Homo sapiens: one gene and its partners. The protein of the gene in region 1 purifies or fractionates together with the protein of each later gene. This does not show direct contact. Each region holds a gene or a part of one and is shown in the gene's direction. Other genes may lie near its edges. The genes, in order: FOXE1, ZYG11B, CDC27, DACH1, PBX1, SMPD4 and PDS5A.

Evidence for each region.
Region 2: the proteins of FOXE1 (region 1) and ZYG11B purify together in Homo sapiens (affinity purification with mass spectrometry; one large-scale study listed by BioGRID and IntAct). This does not show direct contact.
Region 3: the proteins of FOXE1 (region 1) and CDC27 purify together in Homo sapiens (affinity purification with mass spectrometry; one large-scale study listed by BioGRID and IntAct). This does not show direct contact.
Region 4: the proteins of FOXE1 (region 1) and DACH1 purify together in Homo sapiens (affinity purification with mass spectrometry, with the first as the bait; one large-scale study listed by BioGRID). This does not show direct contact.
Region 5: the proteins of FOXE1 (region 1) and PBX1 purify together in Homo sapiens (affinity purification with mass spectrometry; one large-scale study listed by BioGRID and IntAct). This does not show direct contact.
Region 6: the proteins of FOXE1 (region 1) and SMPD4 purify together in Homo sapiens (affinity purification with mass spectrometry; one large-scale study listed by BioGRID and IntAct). This does not show direct contact.
Region 7: the proteins of FOXE1 (region 1) and PDS5A purify together in Homo sapiens (affinity purification with mass spectrometry; one large-scale study listed by BioGRID and IntAct). This does not show direct contact.

Annotation. Positions count from the first base shown.
Region 1 is NC_000009.12:97,852,092-97,856,025, forward strand, and holds the start of FOXE1 (forkhead box protein E1), read left to right. Parts: upstream 1-1,134; 5' UTR 1,135-1,823; coding exon 1,824-2,945; 3' UTR 2,946-3,934. UniProt on the Homo sapiens protein: Transcription factor that binds consensus sites on a variety of gene promoters and activate their transcription.
Region 2 is NC_000001.11:52,816,953-52,820,452, forward strand, and holds part of ZYG11B (protein zyg-11 homolog B), read left to right. Parts: intron 1-3,500. UniProt on the Homo sapiens protein: Serves as substrate adapter subunit in the E3 ubiquitin ligase complex ZYG11B-CUL2-Elongin BC. Acts to target substrates bearing N-terminal degrons for proteasomal degradation with the first four residues of substrates being the key recognition elements.
Region 3 is NC_000017.11:47,140,796-47,144,295, reverse strand, and holds part of CDC27 (cell division cycle protein 27 homolog), read left to right. Parts: intron 1-313; coding exon 314-413; intron 414-1,859; coding exon 1,860-2,067; intron 2,068-2,270; coding exon 2,271-2,443; intron 2,444-3,500. UniProt on the Homo sapiens protein: Component of the anaphase promoting complex/cyclosome (APC/C), a cell cycle-regulated E3 ubiquitin ligase that controls progression through mitosis and the G1 phase of the cell cycle.
Region 4 is NC_000013.11:71,857,205-71,860,704, reverse strand, and holds part of DACH1 (dachshund homolog 1), read left to right. Parts: intron 1-3,500. UniProt on the Homo sapiens protein: Transcription factor that is involved in regulation of organogenesis. Seems to be a regulator of SIX1, SIX6 and probably SIX5.
Region 5 is NC_000001.11:164,849,184-164,852,331, forward strand, and holds the end of PBX1 (pre-B-cell leukemia transcription factor 1), read left to right. Parts: 3' UTR 1-156; coding exon of another isoform or gene 157-219; 3' UTR 220-2,648; downstream 2,649-3,148. UniProt on the Homo sapiens protein: Transcription factor which binds the DNA sequence 5'-TGATTGAT-3' as part of a heterodimer with HOX proteins such as HOXA1, HOXA5, HOXB7 and HOXB8. Binds to the DNA sequence 5'-TGATTGAC-3' in complex with a nuclear factor which is not a class I HOX protein.
Region 6 is NC_000002.12:130,168,103-130,171,602, reverse strand, and holds part of SMPD4 (sphingomyelin phosphodiesterase 4), read left to right. Parts: intron 1-3,500. UniProt on the Homo sapiens protein: Catalyzes the hydrolysis of membrane sphingomyelin to form phosphorylcholine and ceramide. It has a relevant role in the homeostasis of membrane sphingolipids, thereby influencing membrane integrity, and endoplasmic reticulum organization and function.
Region 7 is NC_000004.12:39,901,412-39,904,911, reverse strand, and holds part of PDS5A (sister chromatid cohesion protein PDS5 homolog A), read left to right. Parts: intron 1-720; coding exon 721-872; intron 873-2,451; coding exon 2,452-2,565; intron 2,566-3,500. UniProt on the Homo sapiens protein: Probable regulator of sister chromatid cohesion in mitosis which may stabilize cohesin complex association with chromatin. May couple sister chromatid cohesion during mitosis to DNA replication.

The DNA of each region.
Region 1 (3,934 bases):
GGACAAGGACAGGCCCTGGATCTCCCAGTGAATGGCCAGGGAACGAACCCGGGCCAGAGGGGCCGCGCCGCGAGGATCTCAGGTTAGGACCAAGTTCCGGCTCAGGGACAGCAGGAAAGGAACTCAGAAATTGGACACCCATGAAGCAAACGTGTCCCGACTGCCCGCCCCTTCCCCCGGAGACGCGCCCACCCGGCCACCGCTCTCTTCCCACTCCCCCATTACCCGCAGCCCTCACTCCCCGCTGCGGGAAGGGGCTGCTTGGCTGCCTCTGGGGGTCTTCAGAGCTACCCTGGTCCCGGGGGATTGGAGGAGGAGGTTACCTATCCTGCGTCGTCTTTAATCCGTGCACCACTATCCATCAAATAGAGACAGATCCTGGGCCTCTCAAAGACGGATGATTGGGGGTGGTGATTGGCCTATCCCTAAATATCTACCACGCAAGGACTCTTGAGAGATCCAGACCCCGGTACAGTCGAGGGACCTGGGGCCCAAAAAGGGAAAGCGGCTACCTCTACCACACAGTTGGGAAGCGCAGTCCTAAAGGAGACGCAGGTTGGAGACTCCGCTAAGCGGAGAAGCCGCAGTGGGGCCATGGCAAGTCACCTTCCCTTTCGGGCCTAGGAATACTCATTCGAAAGATGGGGGGACTGGAGTGCCGAGTGGCTGTGGCAGCCACGATTGGGGTTTGGAAACCATCCTGAAAGGCCCGGGGAGCCAGTCTCCTGGAACTTCTCCCTCCCCATTCCCACAAAAACCAAGCGCCCTCTCGGCCAATTCTCACCCTCTCAGGACAAAAAAGTGAGATGAGCCCGTCCTTTCACCTGCGAGTCCAAGCCCTTGGCAGAGGCCTGAAAAGTCCGAAAACTCCGAGTTCGGGCGCTGAGGTCTCCCGAGCCGGTTCCTGAACTCTCCGGGCCTCAGTCGATCGGGGTGCGGAGGGGGCCGACCCGGGGGATCTCCAAGCGCCCTCCCCGCCCTGACGCTGTGGGGCTCCTACCGCGCCGCCACAGCTGCTCCTACCTGGGGAGGTGCGCCCGGGCCCCGGGGGGCGGGCAGTCGGGGGGCGGGCAGGGAACCGGTGCCGCCCCACGCTTCGTGGCCCCTTTAAGGAGGGGAAGCCGGCGGAGGGAGGAGCCGGTCCGGTGTGTGCAGGGGAGCGCCTCGCCAGCGGTCCGCAGGGCTGGAGACCCACGCCGTGGAGAGGACCAGCCTCAGGTCGCCCCGCCTGGGCCCGCGCCCCGACCTCGCTGCCCCCGCCTCGCCTCTCTGCCCGTGGCGCTTACGGCCACCTTGGCCTCGGGGGCAGGGCATGGGCGGCCCCCGCCAGATCGCCCAGCGCCAGTACTAACTGCCCTCGCTCTGGCCTTCGAGCCCGAAGCCTCTTCTGCGCGCACAACCTAGGCAGTAATCCTAAACTAGCGGGCACCACAGACCAGCTGCAGCCACCCCAACCCAGGGATCACTTCCGGACCCCTCGACCGCCCGGCACCAGCGCGCAAGGGACCCTTCAGCCGGAGACCAGAGTCCAGTCCCGGTCACGAGGCCACCGCCGCTGCCCGCCTCGAGAAGCACCACGCGGGCTGAGCCGTCGGCTAGCGGGTCACTCCCGAGCCTCTGTCTGCACCGCGCCAGCCCCAGACCACGGACGCTGAGCCTCCAGCGCGTGCCAGCCTGGGCCGCTGGGCTCTCGGGGCCAGCCCGCGACGATCCCCTGAGCTCTCCGCAGAAGGGCCGAGCGTCCGTTCCGGGGACGCCAGGCCCGCCCCCGCCCCCCGACAGCCGCGGGGATCCAGAGCCCGGGGGTGCGGGACGCCCGCGCCATGACTGCCGAGAGCGGGCCGCCGCCGCCGCAGCCGGAGGTGCTGGCTACCGTGAAGGAAGAGCGCGGCGAGACGGCAGCAGGGGCCGGGGTCCCAGGGGAGGCCACGGGCCGCGGGGCGGGCGGGCGGCGCCGCAAGCGCCCCCTGCAGCGCGGGAAGCCGCCCTACAGCTACATCGCGCTCATCGCCATGGCCATCGCGCACGCGCCCGAGCGCCGCCTCACGCTGGGCGGCATCTACAAGTTCATCACCGAGCGCTTCCCCTTCTACCGCGACAACCCCAAAAAGTGGCAGAACAGCATCCGCCACAACCTCACACTCAACGACTGCTTCCTCAAGATCCCGCGCGAGGCCGGCCGCCCGGGTAAGGGCAACTACTGGGCGCTTGACCCCAACGCGGAGGACATGTTCGAGAGCGGCAGCTTCCTGCGCCGCCGCAAGCGCTTCAAGCGCTCGGACCTCTCCACCTACCCGGCTTACATGCACGACGCGGCGGCTGCCGCAGCCGCCGCCGCCGCCGCCGCCGCCGCCGCCGCCATCTTCCCAGGCGCGGTGCCCGCCGCGCGCCCCCCCTACCCGGGCGCCGTCTATGCAGGCTACGCGCCGCCGTCGCTGGCCGCGCCGCCTCCAGTCTACTACCCCGCGGCGTCGCCCGGCCCTTGCCGCGTCTTCGGCCTGGTTCCTGAGCGGCCGCTCAGCCCAGAGCTGGGGCCCGCACCGTCGGGGCCCGGCGGCTCTTGCGCCTTTGCCTCCGCCGGCGCCCCCGCTACCACCACCGGCTACCAGCCCGCAGGCTGCACCGGGGCCCGGCCGGCCAACCCCTCCGCCTATGCGGCTGCCTACGCGGGCCCCGACGGCGCGTACCCGCAGGGCGCCGGCAGTGCGATCTTTGCCGCTGCTGGCCGCCTGGCGGGACCCGCTTCGCCCCCAGCGGGCGGCAGCAGTGGCGGCGTGGAGACCACGGTGGACTTCTACGGGCGCACGTCGCCCGGCCAGTTCGGAGCGCTGGGAGCCTGCTACAACCCTGGCGGGCAGCTCGGAGGGGCCAGTGCAGGCGCCTACCATGCTCGCCATGCTGCCGCTTATCCCGGTGGGATAGATCGGTTCGTGTCCGCCATGTGAGCCAGCGTAGGGACGAAAACTCATAGACACATCGGCTGTTCACACGTTCCCCGCAATCTGAGAACGAACAGGAATGGAGAGAGGACTCAACTGGGACCCACGTGGAAAAGACCGAGCAGGCCACAGAGGCTCGGTCTCCCCGCGCACAGCGTAGGCACCCGGTGTACTCTGTAAACGGGAGGAGGTGGGGCGAGGCAGCCAGAGCCCTTGGACTGGCACAGGGACCCTCGATGGAGCGAAGCCCTCAAACGGGATGCTTTCTGGTATTCTATCGGGGAGGGTCCTTGGCGGTAACCAGAGGGCAGCGTAGTGTCAACACCAGAGACCAGGATCCAAATTGTGGGGAATCAGTTTCAGCCTTCCATGTGCTGCCGGAACTCGGGCCTTTTTACGCGGTTCGTCCTCTAGTGCCTTTAACTGCGTTACTACAATAAAAGGCTGCGGCAGCGCCTTTCTTCTTAAAGTGAGGAGGACAAATTTGCAAAAGAAATAGGCTTTTCTTCTTTTTTAAATTGGAGAAATCTCTGCTCTGGTTGACCTGGGCTGGTTTTCCCTGTCTCTGAGAACTTGAGACCTAGCTCCGAGTTGAACTGTGCGTCAGCACTCCAGTCCCATCACCTGAACCTTCAGTCTCCCCCATCTGTTACACTAGAGGGCTGCAGGACTCTATCCACCGCCCCCGGGTTATCATTCAGGGCCCCATCATCTTGGATGCTGCCCTGCGTATTTGGCAGCAATGGTGGGCCACCCAGGGCCTCTGAGTAGCCACCCAAAGCCTAGCCGCTGTTCTAGGGAACGGAAAAGAGTTCATGGCCAAGCGTCTAACCTAAAGTCCCAGGATTGGCTCCAGGCAGCAATTATATCATAACTTATTGAACTTTTGAGCAGGACGTGCTGGTAATTTCATGGCTGTTACTGCCCAGTCATAAATCTGCTTTTCCATTATAAGGCAGAGAGAAGTACATTCGTTCATTTGTCCACTGTTTCTT
Region 2 (3,500 bases), on another chromosome or scaffold:
TAATTTTTGTATTATTATTATTTTTTTTTAGTAGAGACGGGGTTTCACCATGTTGGCCAGGCTGGTCTCAAACTCCTGACCTCAGGTGATCCGCCCGCCTAAGCCTCCCAAAGTGCTGGGATTACAGGCATAAGCCACTGTGCCCGGCCAACTTAAGGTATTCTTTCAGAATGAGCATGGTGTAACTAGACACTGAATAATAGTGGTGAATGAGACACTGTTCTCACCTCAAGGAATTTAAAGATTAGGAGACTACAGTGAGTCCATTTGTTGAGTAAAAGGTCTTAAGTAGATCCACTGTTTATGGTACATTCCGGTGCCCAATTCTCATTCACCCAAAATTCTGTTGTTCAAGATGTCGCTGCCAGCACCCATGGTTTCTGAAGAAGCAAAGTGTTTGAATCAGGTTCTATATTATTCTTTGAAAGCTACGATGTAACTCTTATTTATTTATTTAGAGACAAGGTCTGTCTCTATCACTGGAGCTGGAGTGCAGTGGCATAGTAACAGCTCACTGCAACCTTGACGTCCAGGCTCAGATGATCCTCCTGCCTCAGCTTGTAGCTAGGACTACAAGTGCACGTCACCATACCTGGCTTTTTTTTGTATTTTTTGTAGAGATGGGGTTTCATCATGTTGGCCAGGCTGGTGTCAAACTCCTAGGCTCGAACGATCTGCCTGCCTCTTCCTCCCAAAGTGCTGGCATTACAGGCGTCAGCCATCAAGCGTGGCCTAATTATTTATTAATATAAACTCATTCCACAAATGATTTGACACAAGAAATACACAGAACCACTTTAATAGTAAAGTGTGTATATATATGTGTATATATATATATATATATATATATATATATATATATATTTTTTTTTTTTTTTTTTTTTTTTTTTTTTTTTTTTTTTTGAGATGGAGTCTCACTTTGTCACCCAGGCTGGAGTGCAGTGGTGCGATCTCGGCTCACCACACCCTCCACCTCCCAGGTTCAAGCGATTCTCTTGCCTCAACCTCCAGAGTAGCTGGGACTATAGGCCTGCACCACCACACCTGGCTAATTTTCGTATTTTTAGTAGAGACAGGGTTTCACCATTTTGGCTGGGCTGATCTTGAACCCCTGACCTCAGGTGATCCACCGACCTCGGCCTCCCAAAGTGCTGGGCTTACAGGTGTGAGCCACTGTGCCTGGCCTACTTTTAGTTTTAATTAGAAGTAAGGAAAAATAATTTTTCAAAAATTATAGGGGCCGGGCATAATGGCTCATCCCTATAATCCCAGCATTTTCTGAAGTTGAGGTGAGTGGATCGCTTGAGCCCGGGAGTTTGAGACCAGCCTGGGCAACATGGCGAAACCTAGTTTCTATAAAAGATGTAAAAGAAATTAGCCAGGTGTTGTGGTGTGCTCCTGTAGTCCCAGCTACTTGGGAGGCTGAGGTGGCAGCATCATCTGAGCCCAGAAAGCAAGGCTGCAGTGAGCTGTGATGGCACCATGCACTCTGGCCTGGGTGACAGAGTGAGACTCTGTCTCAAAAAGAAAAAAAAAAATTCTAGGATAGAGGGAAAATAGTCAAATGTAGACTTGTAGGCCATGCATAGGGATTTTTGTGGCTCTGCTGCAAGTAAAAAGCGACATGGTTCTCCATATAAGAGGGAAACATTCCATATCCTTGTCAGGGGAGATGGGGAGGGGAGAGAATTTTTTATGAGAAGTTAACTATGAATTAAATTTCTTCTATTGGACCTTAATAGGGGACATACTATAAAGGGCCTTATATAGGATATGTGAGAGTTGTTTTTACTAATATCCTTATAGCAGAAGTAGTAACATTTAGTGAGATTTTCGCTTGGGTTTTTTTTTTTTTTTTGGAGACGGAGTCTCACTCTGTTGCCCAGGCTGGAGTGCAGTGACACGATCTCAGCTCACCACAACCTACACCTCCCAGATTCAAGCATTTCTCCTACCTCAGCCTCCCGAGTAACTGGGACTACAGGAACACGCCACCATGCCCAGCTAATTTTTGTATTTTTAGTAGAGGCTGGGTTTCACAATTTTGGCCAGACTGGTCTCGAACTCACCCGCCTTGGCCTCTCAAAGTGCTGGGATTACAGGCATGAGCCACCGCACCCAGCTCCTTCTCTTGTATTGTTTGATGAAAACTCACTGCATACCACAAAAAGGCAATGCAGTAAAAGCTCTTCTGTGTCAGATAAAGAAGAATAATTCAATGAATGGGATGTGACCGAGAAAACTGCCTTGTACCCACCTGAACTCCCACCTGGAGGCTTATCCGGTCCTTCCTACTACATTACCCAGAAGCAGAGTTGTTCACTCATAAATCGAAAACTGCCTCTTTAGCTACATTAAACTGTCTCTGCCCTAAAGTCGTTTTCTTTTTACTGTACCCACAGGTTCTGAGGACTCCCAAATTTCTTAACAGTTGATCCCATCATATTCCCAGTCTCTAATCTATAGGTTCCTTTCCTCATAACTCAAGGAATGGACCTTTCACAGCTCAGTAGGAGAAAATAAAACATAATAAGTAAATAATAGTGCATTTTTGGCTGGGCATGGTGGCTCACGCCTGTATTCCCAGCACTTTCGGAGGCCAAGGCGGGTGGATCACGAAGTCAGGAGATCGAGACCATCCTGGCTAACATGGTGAAACCCCATCTCTACTAAAAATACAAAAAATTAGCTGTGGGTTGTGGCACACATCTGTACTCTCAGCTACTAGGGAGGCTGAGGCAGGAAAATCACTTGAACTGGGAGGTGGAGGTTACAGTGAGCCGAGATCGCACCACTGCACTTCAGCCTGGGCGACAGAGTGAGACTCTGTCTGAAAAAAAAATAATAATAATAATAATAATAGTGCATTTTCATATGAGTATTTATTTTTGTCACTACTTTTAGGTATTAGAGTTATTTAGGTTTTACTCTATGGAATGACAGCCCTGAATAATTTATTTTATTTTATTTTATTTTTTTTTTGAGACGGAGTCTTGCTGTCGTCCAGGCTAGAGTGCAGTGGCATGATCTCGGCTCACTGCAAGCTCCGCCTCCCACTTCACGCCATTCTCCTGCCTCAGCCTTCCAAGTAGCTGGGACTATAGGCGCCTGCCACCACGCCTGGCTAATTTTTTTGTATTTTTAGTAGAGACGGGGTTTCACCACGTTAGCCAGGATGGTCTCGATCTCCTGACCTCGTTATCTGCTCGCCTCGGCCTCCCAAACTGCTGGGATTACAGGTGTGAGCCACCACGCCCAGCCCCTGAATAATTTATTCTAAAATGCACTGTAATTTGGGGAATATTAGAATATTTTGTCTCCAACTCAGATAGTTTAGGTTCCTACCTTGTGGGCTTATTTTGTTTATATTTAAATGGAATTCACTTCTATTTGTATTAAAATGTTTTAATGTGGCTGGGTGTGGTGGCTCACACCTGTAACCCCAGCACTTTGGGAGGCTGAGGCAGGCAGATCACTTAAGGTCAGGAGTTTGAGACTGG
Region 3 (3,500 bases), on another chromosome or scaffold:
GTAGTAACGAGTCATTTTATTTTTATTTTTTTATATGAAGGAAAGTTTATTAAGGATTATTGACTTATGATCACAAGGTGAAGTCCCACAAGAGGCCATCTGCAAGCTGAGAAGCAGGAAAGCCAGTCCGAGTCCCTCATTTTTAAATACTGTGTTTTCATAGAGAAACCACGAAAAGAACTGATCAAATTCATCAACTTTAGAGTACTTATATAATTAATGTATATTTTTAAAATATACCCAAATTGAAACAATGGTTAATGGTCATAAATCAAGTAAAATATTAATGTCTTCCTTTATAATTTTTTTTTAGTACAACACCTCAGGTATTGAGCCCCACTATTACATCTCCCCCAAACGCACTGCCTCGAAGAAGTTCACGACTCTTTACTAGTGACAGCTCCACAACCAAGGTAATTTAAAGATTTCTGTATGTCACATTTACTTAATGCTTCGCCTGCTAACATTTCTGTTCATTGATGACTCCATTCCTAATAAGTTAACAAAGAGACTATTTCGAATTTTAAAATGTTTTAATTTAGAGGGCCATCTATGATTTTTGTGAAGTTAATTAGTCCTTTGGTAAATATTATATAATATTCTTTTTTAATTAAAAAATTTTTTTTCTCAAGTTAAAAATGACATAGGAATAATCTTGAAATGGCAAAATTATAGGAATGGACAACAGATCAGTGATTATTAGGAGTTAGGCCTCTAGGGAGGATGTTACTATTAAATCATGGCACAAAAGAATTGCATTGTGGTGGTACAACAGTCCTGTATCCTGATTGTGGTGGTTGATTACACAGATCCATTCACGTGATAAAATTTTATAGAACTATGCACACACATACACACACACGGGTTTATATAAAAACTGATGAAATCCATGTAAGGTCTTTAGCTGATAATATTGTACTAATTTCAGTTTCCTGGGTATGATGATATACTATGGTTATGTCACATGTTATCATTTGCAGAAGAGTGAGTCTAAAATTATTTGAAAATAAAAGTTAAAAAAAACTGGAGACCCGGCGGACGCAGTGGCTCACGCCTGTAATCCTAGCACTTTGGGAGGCCAAGGTGGGCCGATCACTTGAGCTTAGGAGTTTGAGACCAGCCTGGTCAACATAGCAAGACCCCATCTCTGAAAAAAAAAATTAGCTGGGATGGTAGTACTCTTTGATCCCAGCTGCTTGGGAGGCTGTGGTGGGAGAATCACTTGAGCCTGGGGAGGTCAAGGCTGTGGTGAGCTCTGATTACATCATTACACTCCAGCACGGGCAACAGAATAAGATCCTGTCCCAAAAACAAAACAAAGGCCGGGCACGGTGGCTCATGCCTGTAATCCCAGCACTTTGGGAGGCCAAGGCAGGCAGATCACCTAAGGTCAGGAGTTCGAGACCAGCCTGACCAACGTGGAGAAATCCAGTCTCTTCCAAAATAAAAATTAACCGGGCGTGGTGGCTCATGCCTGTAATCTCAGTTACGCGGGAGGCTGAAGCAGGAGAATCGCTTGAACCCGGGAGGCAGAGGTTGGGTTGCGGTGAGCTGAGAATTACATCTACTTATTTTCTTACTTTTAAATAATAAATGAGAGTTTGATATACTTTCACAAGAGGGCTACACTTAATGCTGACACACCTTAGTCACTATTAGTTAATGTAATTTATGTTCAGAATTACTGTGTTTAAAATTAAATGACTTTGAAGACCTTTGTTTTTATAAACTCTCTTCTGAAAAAAATATAGAATTAATCAAGATTGTACATTTATTTTATATCTAATACTGGAGAAAGGGCTGAGGAGAAATCTAAAATACATGAGTATAACAGGTGTGAAATTTCTTCCCTTTTACAGGAGAATAGCAAAAAATTAAAAATGAAGTTTCCACCTAAAATCCCAAACAGAAAAACAAAAAGTAAAACTAATAAAGGAGGAATAACTCAACCTAACATAAATGATAGCCTGGAAATTACAAAATTGGACTCTTCCATCATTTCAGAAGGGAAAATATCCACAATCACACCTCAGATTCAGGCCTTTAATCTACAAAAAGCAGCAGCAGGTCTGTTTTAAATGCTTAATATTATCTTTGTATTTTATTATGTACTTATTTTAAGTAAATTTCTTTATGTTCATTACAGTACCTTCATTGTTTTTTATATAGATGTTGGAATTTTTAATAGATTAGTTTGTAATTACCTTTTCTAGAGAAGCAGACTAGTTTATTGCGTTTTTTCCTTTGTTTACTATGTTGTTTTCTCCTAGAAGGTTTGATGAGCCTTCTTCGTGAAATGGGGAAAGGTTATTTAGCTTTGTGTTCATACAACTGCAAAGAAGCTATAAATATTTTGAGCCATCTACCTTCTCACCACTACAATACTGGTTGGGTACTGTGCCAAATTGGAAGGGCCTATTTTGAACTTTCAGAGTACATGCAAGTAAGTATAGAAAATGGTTATATATGCCTTTCTAGAGATAATTTCAATTTCATTAAAATAAATGCCCATGCTTAAGAAGGCTAGATCTAAAAGATCAGTATTTATTATGTAATGTCTATATATTTATTTTGTCAGTATTTATAATTTATAGATATAGTTCTTTCTTGTGTTAAGGAGTAATTTAAATTCTTTGCAACTTCTCGGAATAGGTTTATAGAGACCCAAGTCATCCAGACATTCTTACGTAGAGTGTGTCCTATTCAGTTGTGTCTGAAAATACATATTTATATTTACCATGTAATAGGATTTATTTATTTTTCTGCAATATACAGAGTTAATTACTGGGGTGAATTTTTGACATCGAATATGTTTTATAAGCTTGAAGAATGCTATAAAGAAAATTGTGCTGAATTGAGGACACAATGTCTTTAATACAAGGCTTTTTACTCTTTGGATTTTAATTAAATTTGTTGCTTAAGTTATCTGTCTATACCAGAAAAGGAGAGAATGATTAACCTAAAGCCAAAGAAAATTCTAATTCCCAATTTATATTACCCCTTAGTTCTTCCCAAAGCATTTTCTCCACCCCCAACTTAAAAAAAGAAACCTTTTAGAAACCTATATATTAATAAAATATCTCTAATATGGATTAAAGTTGATATGATTCGTTTTTTGCTTAATTTGCTTTCAGTTCATTTATTCAATATATATCTCTGTGCATATGATATCCTGGACTCTCTTCTAGACTCTGTATTACAGCTAGTCAGACAATTTCTTGCCTCTGTGGAGCTTACATTCTAGCAACAGACAGATTATAAGCCAATAAATGTATAAGAACAGGTAGCAATAAGTCATGAAGAAAAATGAAGCATGGTGAGGAAACTGGGAGACAATGAAGTATGGTGTTTTTGTTTTTATGTACTCAGAGGGAAGGTTACTCTTCCCTTCATGATCCATGCAAAGATCTAGGGGAAAGGTGTTCTTTCCCACAGGGAATACATACAGAGGATACCTATTCATATAATTTAATTTTGAATAGTACAGAACAGAGAGTTGA
Region 4 (3,500 bases), on another chromosome or scaffold:
ACAACTACTGCAAAATATAATGGGAAATTAAACTCTCACAGGTTGTAAACTGTCTCCCTTTGAATCCTTGTCTGAAGAAATTAATTTGAACTATGCCTTCTAAATAGGTACAGGTGAGTCATCTAGATTTCATTAAACATTTTTATTTTAAGGTTTTTGTTACTTGGTTCTTTTAAAAAGTTAAACTTTGTTTGAATTTATCTTTCAAGTATTTCCTTTTCAGCTTGTTCACCAAAAAAAAAAAAAAAGTCACATTAAGTTATATATCTTTAGAATAACAGGAAATGTAAAAATGGATATTATTGGCTTGGGTATTTAAAAATGTAATTAAGATAAAGTTTTATCATTTTATGTTTGAATTGTTATAAAAATAGAATGACCTTAGCATATGTCAGCATGTGCCATTTTCTTACTGAGGTAATGCTTTGTGATTGGCCAGTTTAAGAGATGTATATCTGCATGCATGTGTGTGTGTGTGTGTGTACATACGTATGTCTAAATACTACATATTATATGTAGTATATTAATATATTTATATAGTATATGTAGTTTGAATATTCTAGCTAAGACTACACTTATATTTTCAGGCTTTGGGACTGCATTAAGGAGACCCTTCTCTATTATGTTTGTTATGTTCAATAATTAAATTTTTAAAGAAGAAAACTATGAATTAAGAGCCCACCTAATGGAGCTCAGATAAGTGTAACAGCAAAGGCTCTGATCTGCACAGATATGTACATCTCAGGCACAGCAGAGGCTCTGTGCAAACCTACATTTTGCTCAAATTTCTTGTTTCCTTCTTCTCAATCTGCCAAAAATATTTCTAGTAAAAAGTAATTTTTGCTACTGTGGCTGTCTTGTAACTAACTTTTATTTGCTGATATTCGCTTTTTAGCAAATGTCACATACAGGAATGACTTCATTAGGATAGTATAGTTAGTTTACCAAATTATTGCTTTGGAAAACAAGAATACCAAGGATAAGATATTTATATTTGGTCCACTAATTAGTTATTATTAGATTACTGGTGGATTACTTTATTTGTTACACCTATTTATTTTAAGGAGGTTTCTGAGAATCTGTTAAGAGTGTGTCCATTGTTGCTAGTTTTAGGCAGCTAATGATTAGCTTTATATATAAATGTACAAATGACAATGAAAAGAATTTTCAATCCACTATAAATTAGTTATTAGACAATCAATAAAAAGGTCATTGTTTTTCAAATTAATGATACAATTAAAATTAATTTAATGAATAGCAGATAAATGTCCAATTAAAAAATATATGTCACATCACATATAATGACCCAAATCACCACTTGATCCAAAGTCAAGGACCTTGAACCAAATGCATTTAAAATGTATTGGTTTATTCGGACATAGATTTCCTTTATAAGAGAAAAGCATTCGAATTCACCCATTTAAAAAAAATCATCTTTCATTCTTTCTAAATTGGACATTAAATTTGCCAATGACTGCATTGTGTTAAAGGTGTGGTCCTTTTGCTTTCTGATCCAAATTGGCTTGGAATTGATCCAGGATTTCAAGCTGGGATTCTTCTGCACATTTAAATGTATGTGACTTGATTGGAAGTTGTCAAAGACAACTCATTAAACTGGAAATCTCACTATGTCATTGTTTAATTGGTCTTTTTTTGTTGTTGTTATAAGTATATTGAAGTGTTGTAAACTACAAGCACAGCAACACACTGAATAGCCAGTTACTTTTTAAAAAAGTTTTAGAGAGTAGTGATTGATACTGAGAGAGAGACACACAGAGAGAGAGATACAGAGAGAGAGAGAGAGAGAGAGAGGCAGAGAGAGGCAGAGAGAGAGAGTGCTTAACTGAAGTATCTATAATAATGTACCGTACAGGTTGAATACAATACCTGGAATACATTACATTTTTCTAGCAGGAAGTAAAAGTGAAATAAGCCAGGCACAGAAAGACAAATACTGCATGATATCACTTACATGTGGAATCTAAAAAAGTTGAACTCATAGATGCAGAGAGTAGAATGGTGGTTACCAGGGACTGGAGAGCTGTTGGTCTAAGGTTACAAAATTTCAGTTAGATAGGAAGAAAATGTTGTACAACGTGGTGATTATATTTTCTATGATTTGAAAAATAGAAATAAATATACTTTGATTTGACTATAAGTAGATCTTTAAGAATCCTGAAGTGGATTTTGAAGATAGCCTATATTTTTGACAAAAAAAATATGGATATACTTTTAAAGCATGATTTTCATGAAGCAAATACTGCAATAGGCCACATAGTACATTGGTTGATGTTGATTGGTAACATTGAATAATTGAGAAATGTTTTTGTTTCCTTAGCGTATATGAATGGAGTGGTAAACATGAAGTATTAAAAAGTCACAGTGTTAAATGATCTTTGAATTTGTATGGTATCAAGTGTTTGTAAATAATTAGATTGCCTTTCCAGTTACAACAGGAAAAAAATAACCTTATTTTTCTTCAAGGGCAAACAAAATATATCTTAAGAAAGAAAGTGTACTACTTGAAAGGGAGATATTTTATGGAAACATACAGAAGCATTTGCAGTAAATATTTATCAATTCCATTTAAGGGATACTGGTCATTTCTTCAGTAAAGGCAATGAAAATAAATCTCTAGAATATGTTAACTAAGAAATAGTGTATTACATTCACTTATCAGGCAGATGGAGTATTTTGTTAAAATCTTAAACTGTATCCTGATATTTTATTAGTAGCAACAGTAAATGGGCTGTTTTATTCATAGTCTTATATTTTAAAGACATATTGTTTATGTATGAACAAAGTAAATCACTTAAGGTGTAACAAATCTTTGAACCCATCATAGTTCTGCTAAAATATACTGATGCATTCAACAGTATTACTTTCTATTTTATGTTTCAAATTTAGGATTTTTATTTAATTTGATTATTCAAAATGATATTATCTTCTTGAGTTAGGCACTTACACTTAAATAGTGCCTTTTGATTTTAAAAGAATAACCTGGAACACTTTTATTTTTCATAATACCTGTCACACATTTTATATGAGGATGAATGTTCTTGTGTGTGCAACAAGTGTAAAATTTTTATCAGTAGTTTAGAGAACTCTGTGGTGGATATTTTTTATATGTATTAGCATTAGCTCATTTGTACTCTATGCTTTAAATAATTGTCGTACATTTGGTAGAAAAGCCTTTACATACATGTATATGTGTTGTGTAGGAATACATTCACACACACACACGCAAACATAACATATACACCTGTAGGATGTAGGGCCACAGGACAAATAACTTAGGAAAATACAATTGGCTTTAATTTTACCTTTTTGTAGCACATAAAAACATGAAACAATACATCAATAAACAGGTCCTATTTTACTGAAATACAACAGAAAAAAAGAATTAATTTTAGAGTTAAAGAAGTAGTTTATACTTAAATATTTTAGATATAATTATGCAAGGCTATATGGTTATTAGGACAGTGATTAAAAACAGCTTA
Region 5 (3,148 bases), on another chromosome or scaffold:
GTGGCCTGAATAATTGCCATGTTAAGTTAATGCAAAAGATCAGAACAGGGCTACATTTGCACAGGCAGTTTCTCTCCGGGCCGTAGTTTTCACTGATGATCACCTTTCACAGCATTTTCCCCAACCAGCATTTCACTTAGTCTTCTCTATACCCAGCACCTCCCCCGGCACCCCCGGCAAGCCCACTATCACTTCCGACTTCCAACGTGGCATCCGTGAGATCTGTCCACATTAGGCGAAGCAGGAGAACACTGAGAGCAGCAGGATGGGTTTGGAAAGAGCATGCCTCTGGAAACACAGCTTCCTGGGAATTCACATGAGGCCAGTCCTACAGAGAGCAAGATGCACCCCAGGATTTCTTCATTTTCTAATAGATGTGGGAGTGCTCCATTTTCCCCGACAGCGAATTTCCCCTGAGAAACGATACTAGACCCTGGGTTTGCCCACCTTGTAACTCTTCCTTATCTCCTCCTTTTCATCCCTAATCCATCCTCCCTCTGGCATGGAATTGACGCCCGTGCAGTACATTTGCCAAGTGGCACCTTCTTTCAATTTATGTTTTATTTTGCTATGGTGGTGATTCTTTATTTGCTGGTTGTCTTTTCTCACACATCTTTCTCTCTGTCTCTCTCTTTCCTGCTCTTTGTTTTTCTGCCCAGAAAAACCTGACTTCGATACCAAAAAAGATGAAACTACAGAAACTCAAATTTAAAAAAAACTTTAAAAGAAACAAAAAAATACTCAACGATTCTTTCAGCTTTATTAACATTTTCCATTGTTTCTTGCGACTTGTGTCTCGTTCTTTGTAGTATTGATGATGAACATTTGATAATGAATGTTCTTGTATATTCAGATAAAGAAAAAAAAAACCAAAAAAGCGGTCTGAATTTAATAGTGTTTATAATAAAAATTTTAAAAATGACCCTCATAGCACGCAAAACAGGATGGGGAATTTCCCCTCTTCTTTCTGTGACAATGCGCATCATTCCTGCATTAGTTTTTAACACCAGACTACCTACATTCATCATTTCCCTCATTTTTCTTTTATTTTCTTGCATTTGTGAATTAGTTCAAGAATGCTAGAAAAGTGTCGAGTTGTGCACATCCATTTCTTGTTTCACAATGTTTAAAAGTGACAGTAATTCATTTTGTAAACTAAAAAAAAAAAAAAAAAGGTTGGAATAGTGAGCATAATAGGTACAACCTAACACATTATTATGTTTATTAACTTTGAGACCCAGAAATAAATTCTTTTCTTTTCTTGATTCTTGCTCTTAAAAATACAAAAAAAAAAATGTTTTGTTTTGTGTTATTTTTGGTTTGTTTATTGGGGGGCTTTTTTTAATTGTCAGGATTATGATCTTGCTGTTTTTCTTCAATATGTATACAAGGTGATGTGAAAAGATGACTTGGGCAGAGGAGTAAGAACAAGTAGGCTTGTTCTTCTACTTTGCTTCAGAATTCAGTTAATGCCAAAAGCGAAGATCAAGCCCATGTTGATGTCTCGTTGCTCACCTGCATTTCCAGAGAGTGTGACACTCATGCAGTCCCTGAGAAAAATAAAATCAGGGACATACTTCTCCTTTTAGCCTTTTAAAAATTCAAAAACGTTTAGTCCAAGGGAACTTTTTATGCTATCAGGAAAGGTTTTTGCTGTTTTTGATTCTGATTATCACAGCCAAGTACTTTGTTTTATTTCTCCCTAATTAATAACTACATTCCATGAGGCCTCTTCCAACCAAAGAGGCCTTTTCTTCCAGGAGAGTCCCGCAGGAGATGCTGGTATGATGGGCACCATTGGTTAAGTAAACTACATGCAGGAAGAAGTCCTTGGGGCCAGTCTGCCAGCTGAGTCCTGGTTTTGGATGAAGAGTTAATGAGATATTGGGCCAGGCTCAATGCTGTAGTTTTAATGCTAAGAGGTTACGTTTACTTCACAGAGTACACCTCTTAGTAACCTCTGACTTAGGCAGCTGCTTAAAGCAAATTGCAAAACTGGCTTGATTTGGAATGTTTTTATTAGAGGAAAAAAGAAAGCCATATTATCTGGAAAAAAATTCATTTTAAATACCATCATTCAACAAATTATGTTCAGAAAGTGGTCAGAACTTAAGCAAGAAAAGTAAAGAAAGAATGCAGAATTGTGGAGCAATGCTTTAGGAAATATTTCTACCTGAACACTTGTACTCTTGAAGTCACAACAAAATAATGATGAGCTTTTCACATCACCTTTATGGTTTCAATCCCTAGCTCAAAGCTTCCTGGAATCTTTTATTTTTTGTAAACTTTTTTTTCTTTTGTTAAAATAAATAAAACATTCAATGTTTTTCTCCTTTTCTCTCTTATTACTTCTTTCCTTTGGCATTTTCAATTTGAAATGCTTTCCTTTGGTTGTTGGTTTTATTCTCCCCCTACCCCTCCCCTTTTCTTATTATTCAGAATATAAACCTGCAAAGCTCTGCTCTGTTTTGGTTTTGAAAGTTTAAGCTTTTCTGCTTCTGTGAGAGCACAGGCTTCTGTCCCTTTTGATTCCAACTGAACTTTTGTGTTCTCTAATGATACTAACACGGTGTAGGTTTTACAGTCTCCTAATTTGTACTGGTAATGCATATTCCAAATAAATAGTTTCTTTTGTTGCAAAAAAAAATACTTGTATTTTGTGCACATTTCTTTTCTTACATGCTGGCAACTTCTCTTTCCCCAAACTAGGCCTGCATTAGTGTAGATTATGGTTTAAACTGTTGCCCTAATCACTGAAAAGTCTACATACTATGGTGGTGGGGCAGAGACCTTATGGACCACCTTCTTCACTCAGGAAATAAGAAGGAAGGAAGGAAGGATCATTTGTGGGTAAACAATAGCTGTATTACAGAGGGACAGAGCACCCCATCTTGTCTGCTTGCTACTGGCAGCCATCCACCAAGCACCAGTTCAGAGAAATGCCAGGAGTATTTTCCATAATAAATTCTAAGTTCCTAAGTCATGGCTGTTTGCCCAGTGATTCTCCTTTTCTTCTCTTTGTCTGCTGTGATCTGGTCATAAGAAAAATTGTGGTTCCCAAGAGATATTTCAGGGGAAGGAATCTAGGTTACAAATAATACCCAGTTGTAGGCTCTCAGGAGTGTGATAGATGTTACTCCCAACAGAT
Region 6 (3,500 bases), on another chromosome or scaffold:
GGAGGAGACGCTGCCCAGGTAGCGGCAGTGATCAGTGACCCTGAAATGTTGCTGATCCTGTGGAGGACTCGGAGGTGAGGCAGATTCACACCCTCTTAGATGCAGAATTCAGCTGCCAAGCAGTTTTTGATGCCTGGTTTTTTTGCTTGTTTTAACTTTTTGGGTTGTTTTAATTTTTTCTATTAGAAATTATATACGTAGGCTGGGAGTGGTGACTGATGCCTGTAATCCCAGCACTTTGGGAGGCCAAGGTGGAGGGATCGCCTGAGGTCAGGAATTCGAGACCAGCCTAGCCAACATGGTGAAACCTTGTCTACTAAAAATACAAAAATTAGCTGGGCATGGTGGTGCACACCTGTAATCCCAGCTACTCAGGAGGTTGAGGCGGGAGAATTGCTTGAACCCGGGAGGCGGAGGTTGTGGTGAGCTGAGATTGCACCACTGTACACACACACAAAAAAAAAAAAGAAAAGAAATTATATATATATGGTTTGGGTTTATTTATTTATTTTATTTTATTTTATTTTATTTTGTGTTTGGAGATGGAGTCTCACTCTGTCGCCCATGCTGGAGTGGTGCAGTGGCATGATCTTGGCTCACTGCAACCTCCATCTCCTGGGTTCAAGTGATTCTCCCACCTCAGCCTCGCAAGTAGCTGGGATTACAGGCACAGGTCAGCATGCCCGACTAATTTTTGTATTTTTAGTAGTAACGGGGTTTCACCATGTTGGCCAGGCTGGCCTCAAACTCCTGACCTCAGGCAATCCGTCCACCTTGGCCTCAGACAAAGTGCTGGGATTACAGGTGTGAGCTACTGCACCCAGCATTTTTTTTTTTTTGAGACAGGGCCTGGCTGGGTTGCTCAGCCTGGAGTGCAGTGTTGTGATCACAACTCACTGCAACATTGACCTCCTGAGCTCAAGTGATCCTCCCACTTCAACCTCCCAAGTAGCTAGTACTATAAGCATGCACCCCCACACCTAGCTTTTATTTTATTTTTTTGTAAGATGGGTCTTGCTATGTTGCCCAGGCTGCTCTAGAACTCCTGGGCTCGAGCGATCCTCCTGCCTTAGCCTCCCAAAGTTCAGAGATTACAGGCATGAACCACTACACTGGTCCATTGTGTGCTTTTTTTTTTTTTTTTGACAGGGTCTTACTCTGTTGCCCAGGCTGGAGTGCAGTGGCGCTGTCTCTGCTTCAAGTGATTCTCCTGGCTCAGTCCCAAGTAGCTGGGACTACAGGTGCCTGTCACCACACCCAGCTAATTTTTGTATCTTTAGTAGAGACAGGGTTTCACCATGTTGAGCAGACTGATCTTGAACTCCTTACCACAAGTGATCTGCCTGCCTCGACCCCCTAAAGTGCTGGGATTACAGGTGTGAGCCGCCGCTCCTGGCCTAGCCATTATGTATTTTTAAAGACGGTCTTACTCTGTCACACAGGCTGGAGTGCAGTGTCATAATCATCACTTGGTGGCACAATCATCACTCAAGCCAGCCTGTCACATCAGTGACTATAGGCATGCATCACTACAGCCAGCTAATTTAACTTTTTTTTTTTTTTTTGCGGAGATATGGGGATGCCTCGCTGTGTTGCCCAGGCTGGTCTTGAACTCCTGGCCTCAGCAATCTTCCCGCCTCAGCTTCCCAAGTAGCTGGAATTACAGTTGCAAGTCACCACACCTAACTTTTTATTTTGAAATAACTTCAGATTTACAGATAAGTTTCCACGCATAATAAAAATAACTTGCAGGCTGAGCACAGTGGCTCACGCCTGTAATCCCAACACTTTGGGAGGCCAAGGCGGGAGGATCACTTGAGGCCAGGAATTCGAGACCAGTGTGGGCAACGTCGGGAGACCTCATTTCTACAAAAAAAAAATTAGCCAAGTATGGTGATGTGCAACTATGGTCCCAGCTACTCAGGAGGCTGAGGTGGGAGGATCACTTGTGCCCAGGAGCAATGAGCTGTGAGCGTGCCACTGCACTTTAGCCTGGGGTAACAGAACAAGATCCTGTCTCAGGGAAAAAAAAAAAAAAGAAACTTTCATAGATCTTCACCCAGATTTCCAAACTGTTAATACTTTGCTGCATGTGTTGGTTTCCACCTCTATTGTATGTGTTTTTTTTTCTCTAAGCCAATATGAGTAAGCTACAGGATATGGCATCCCTTGACCTCTTAATATTTCAGTGTATTTCCTAGAAGCGAATGCATTATCCTATATAGTCACAGTGCCTGTAACCACACCAGGAAGTTAGTATTGCCACCAGGCCTCACACTGTGTGCAGTGATGTTTCACAGGCTCACCCACTGTATATAGTGATATTTCTAGTCCCCTTCAGTCAGGAATGGTCCCTTGCCTTTCTGTCTTTCCTGACCTTGACCCCTCCAGAGCATGCGGCCGCCCCTTAGGCTGTGTGGTATTTGCTGGTGACTAGGCCCAGCATGGGCTTTGTTGGGAGGAGCACCGTAGTGGGACACCTGGTCCTTGCCAGGTGCCCTTTTATCACTGGGTTAAAAAGGTGCCGGTCAGGTTTTTCCATTGTAAAATAATTACTTTGTGCCCAGGTTAAATAGTAATGAGGCTGGGCATGGTGGCTCATGCCTGTAATTCCAGGACTTTGAGAGGCTGAGGTGGGCGGATCACTGGAGCTCAGGAGTGTGAGACCAGCTCAGGCAACATAGCAAAATCCCATCTCTACCAAAAATTTAAAAATAACCAGGTGTGGTGGTGTGCGCCTGTAATCCCAGCTACTTGAGAGGCTGAGGTGGGAGGATTGCTTGCACCCAGGAGGCGGAGGTAGCAGTGAGCCAAGATCATGCCCCTGTACTCCAGCCTGGGCTACAGAGTGAGACCGTATCTCAACCAAAAAAAAAAAAAAAAAAATTAATAGTGCCTGGGCAACATAGCATGACCTTGTTTCTACTAAAAAGAAAAACATCAGCCAGGCGTGGTGGTGTTGGTCCCAGCTACTTGGGAGGCCTAAGTCTAGGAGGTTGAGGTTGCAGTGAGCTGTGATTGCATCATTGCACTCCAGCCTAGGCGATAGGGTACGATCCTGTCTCAAAAAAAAATTGATAACGAGAATTTACCGGGAAGATGTATGGAGACTATGTAATTATCAGTAGTATTAACATCCACTTTTGATTCTCCTATTTTTTCAAATTGATTTTATTTGCAGACAGGGTCTTGTTCTCTTACCCCAGGCTGGAGTGCAGTGGTACGATCTCTGCTCACAGCAACCTCAACCTCCTGGGCTCAAGTGATCCTCCTGTCTCAACCCCCCAAGTATCTGGGACTACAGGGAGGCATCACCACACCTGGCTAATTTTTGTATTTTTTTGTGGAGACAGGGTTTTGCCATGTTGCCCAGGCTGGGAATTTCTTAATTTTTTAGAAACAGGGTCTTGCTCTGTCACCCCAGGGTGGAGTGAAGTTGGTACGATCATTTGTCACTATAGCCTCAACTCGTGGGCCCAGGCCATTCTCCCTCCTCAGCC
Region 7 (3,500 bases), on another chromosome or scaffold:
AATTATAATCACTTCTAAAACTTGGTGAATTTTCTTTCAATAGAATCAAATGAACTCTCCCATAAGGTTATTAATAGTTTTCAAGGGAAATAAAAAATCAGTAACCTGTAGTTCTAGGTACTCAGGATGCTAAGGCAGGAGGATCACTTTAGCCCAGAAATTTGAGACCAGCCTAGGCAACGTAACGAAACCCCATTTCTTTAAAAAGAAAAAAGTAGATCATTTAGCAATATTTGCATTGGAAAATTTCTAAATAGGAACAGATTCAAAATTGTTTGTAGGCTGGGCGCGGTGGCTCACGCCTGTAATCCCAGCACTTTGGGGGGCCGAGGCGGGCGGATCATGAGGTCAGGAGATCGAGACCATCCTGGCTAACAGGGTGAAACCCCGTCTCTACTAAAAATAAAAAATTAGCCGGGCGTGCGGGCGCCTGTAGTCCCAGCTACTTGGGAGGCTGAGGCAGGAGAATGGTGTGAACCTGGGAGGCGGAGCTTGCAGTGAGCCAAGATCCTGCCACTGCACTCCAGCCTAGGCGACAGAGTGAGACTCCGTCTCAAAAAAAAAATAAAATTGTTTGTAAAGCCTCTTTTGAAGAGAAATAGTGTGCCAGTTTATAAAGGCACACATAAGACTGTACAACCTAATGAAGCCAAGGCAGTCTTTGGAGATTAGTACAGAGTTTTGTTATCTTGCTCATCTAATAAATTTTATGCTTTTTAGTGGCGAGTAAGAAAAGAAGCTATGATGGGTCTGGCTCAGCTTTATAAGAAATACTGTCTTCATGGTGAAGCAGGAAAGGAAGCTGCAGAGAAAGTCAGCTGGATAAAGGACAAACTTCTGCATATTTATTATCAGAACAGCATTGACGACAAGTGAGTTTAATATGTTGGTAGAATGGTTGAGTGTAAAACTACTTTTTACTTAAAAAATGTCTATTTAATATTTTAGTAATTTCTTATTTTTATGTATTTACTTCATAAATAAAATTAAGTTTATTCAACTTGATTAATCATTTATTTCTAAGTTTAGAGATAGCTTTTTACATATTTTTATGTACTGTGTTTAAACAAGACTGTCCACGATTATAAGGTAGCCTTATAATATGAAATAGGCATGAACTTTGGAGTTAGAGACCAAATGTTCACTCTGCCCTTTATTAGATGTGTATTCTTACATAGGTTCATTAAGGTCTTGTGCGCTTCAGTTTTATATAAAAAGGAAAAATAATAGTGCCTTTCCCACAGGATTATCATGTAGATTAAATAAAATAATGAATATAAAGCATCCTAGCCCAATGTGTGGCAAGAGAGCACTATTGAGTTAACTGCTAGTTACTTTCCTTTTTACACCACTACCAATAGAGGAATTACTAAGTTGTTTTCATTTTCTGAATATTACTTATAATTCTATATTGGATCGTACAAATGATACTTGGTGTGTGCAGAATAGTTTCCATTGTTTTGTTTAATTAAACTAACTTCTCTGGCATCACTGGATATGTATTTCATTTGTTAATTAAGAGATCTTGTATATTCTTAATCCAGTGATATTAAATAATAGAAGCAAGAAGATACAAGCAATAGGTACTAGCAAGAAGGATATTCCAATATTGGTAAGGAATTTAGATCATGGAGAGAACAATAATCAGATGTACACAGGAAAAACTACATTTTCTGGAAGTAATATGAAGGGGGGTCCCCCTGTTTTTAACTATGTGACAACATGGAAAATGGGCTGAACTGTAATCAGAGGAAATTAATGAGTTTCTTGAGAATTAGCTCTACCGCGGATCATAGCTTTATATGTTGCGTTAATGAATTTGCTTTTGTTCTAGACTGCTGAAGAAGAATAGGCGGAACAGCCTAGCACCCTGTGTTTAGGAATAACATTTAAACCTTCTAGAACAAATGTTTCATACTGACAAATTATAAAGCCACAGACAGTAACCGTGTCTCTAAAGTTAAACTGTACTGAAAGCTTTCCAAGAAGGAAGTCATTATAAACTGATATCTTCCATTGTATGTGCACACATAGCTATTATCTTGATATGGTATCCTGGCATAAGATGGTTAAAACTTAAAATGTTGGCTGGGTGTGGTGCCTCATGCCCGTCGTAATCCCAGCACTTCAGGACGCTAAGGCAGGCGGATTGCCTGAGCTCAGGAGTTCCAGATCAGCCTTGGCAACATAGGGACACCTTGTCTCTACAAAAAATATAAAAATTAGCTGGGCATGGTGGCACGCGCCTGTAGTCCTAGCTACTGGAGAGGCTGAGGTGGGAGAATCGCTTGAACCTGCGAGACAGAGGTTGCATTGAGCCGAGTTTGCACCACTGTACTCCAGCCTGGGTGACAGAGCAAGACCCTGTCTCCAAAAAAAAAAAAAAAAATTGCTTCTTAAAAATGGAATAATTGTGTCACTTAGGTTTTTTTTGTTGTTGTTATTTCCTAGACTGTTGGTAGAGAAAATCTTTGCTCAGTATCTTGTCCCCCACAACCTGGAAACAGAAGAGAGAATGAAATGCTTATATTACTTATATGCTAGTTTGGATCCAAATGCTGTAAAGTAAGTTACTTTTCAAATAACTGCTGTATTTTCTAAGGATTTCGTAAAATTACTTCATCTTATCTAATTAGTTGTTATTGATTGGATTGTTGCTGCTTCTATAGTTGAATCAAGAACCTCAGGTAAATATTTATAGACAAAATGTTACGATTTATGTTCAGGTTATTCTTATATGTGTAGGCTTGTTTGGCAGCCAGGTCAGTAGTAGGATGGTTTCAGGTGTTCAAATAAATGACCACGTCAAAATACCTGTGGCTAGTGTCTAAAACTACTGGTGCTTTATCCTTCCAGACTAAATATTAAGCCTAATAACTGAATACTGATTCTTTGTTGGGTGAACATATTCAGATCTTCTCTGTGTAAGATGGCCATATGATTAATGGTCCAACTGGATTATTTTCAGACTGAAAGGGATCACTATTGATATTTTTACTTAAATAGCATAATCAAACTGTCCCAGGCCAACCAGGATGTGTGGTCATTTCACTTTAATAGATTTTTTTTTTAAAGTAAATGTTACAATATATACATATATTATGTTGTACACCATCGTATATGTAATTTTTGTCAAAAATACACAAAGTAAATGAGTGATGTCATTAAGAATTCTGATCTGAAGATGGAAGGATCTTTTCAGCCTAGAAGCTTGACCATCCTGGGCAATGTAGTGAGATTCTGTCTTAAAAAAGAGAGAGAATTTTGAGTTAGGAATTTGACTGTTTGCCATTGTGGCTTCTTCAAGTGTTCCTGCATTATTAGATTAAGACTGCATTTTTAGGCCGGACGTGGAGGCTAACCCCTGTAATCCCAGCATTTTGGGAGGCCAGGGCAGGCAGATAATTTGAGGTTAGGAGTTCGAGACCAGCCTGGCCAACATGGTGAAACCCCATCTCTACTAAAAATACAAAAATATTAGTTGGGCATGGTGGTGCACG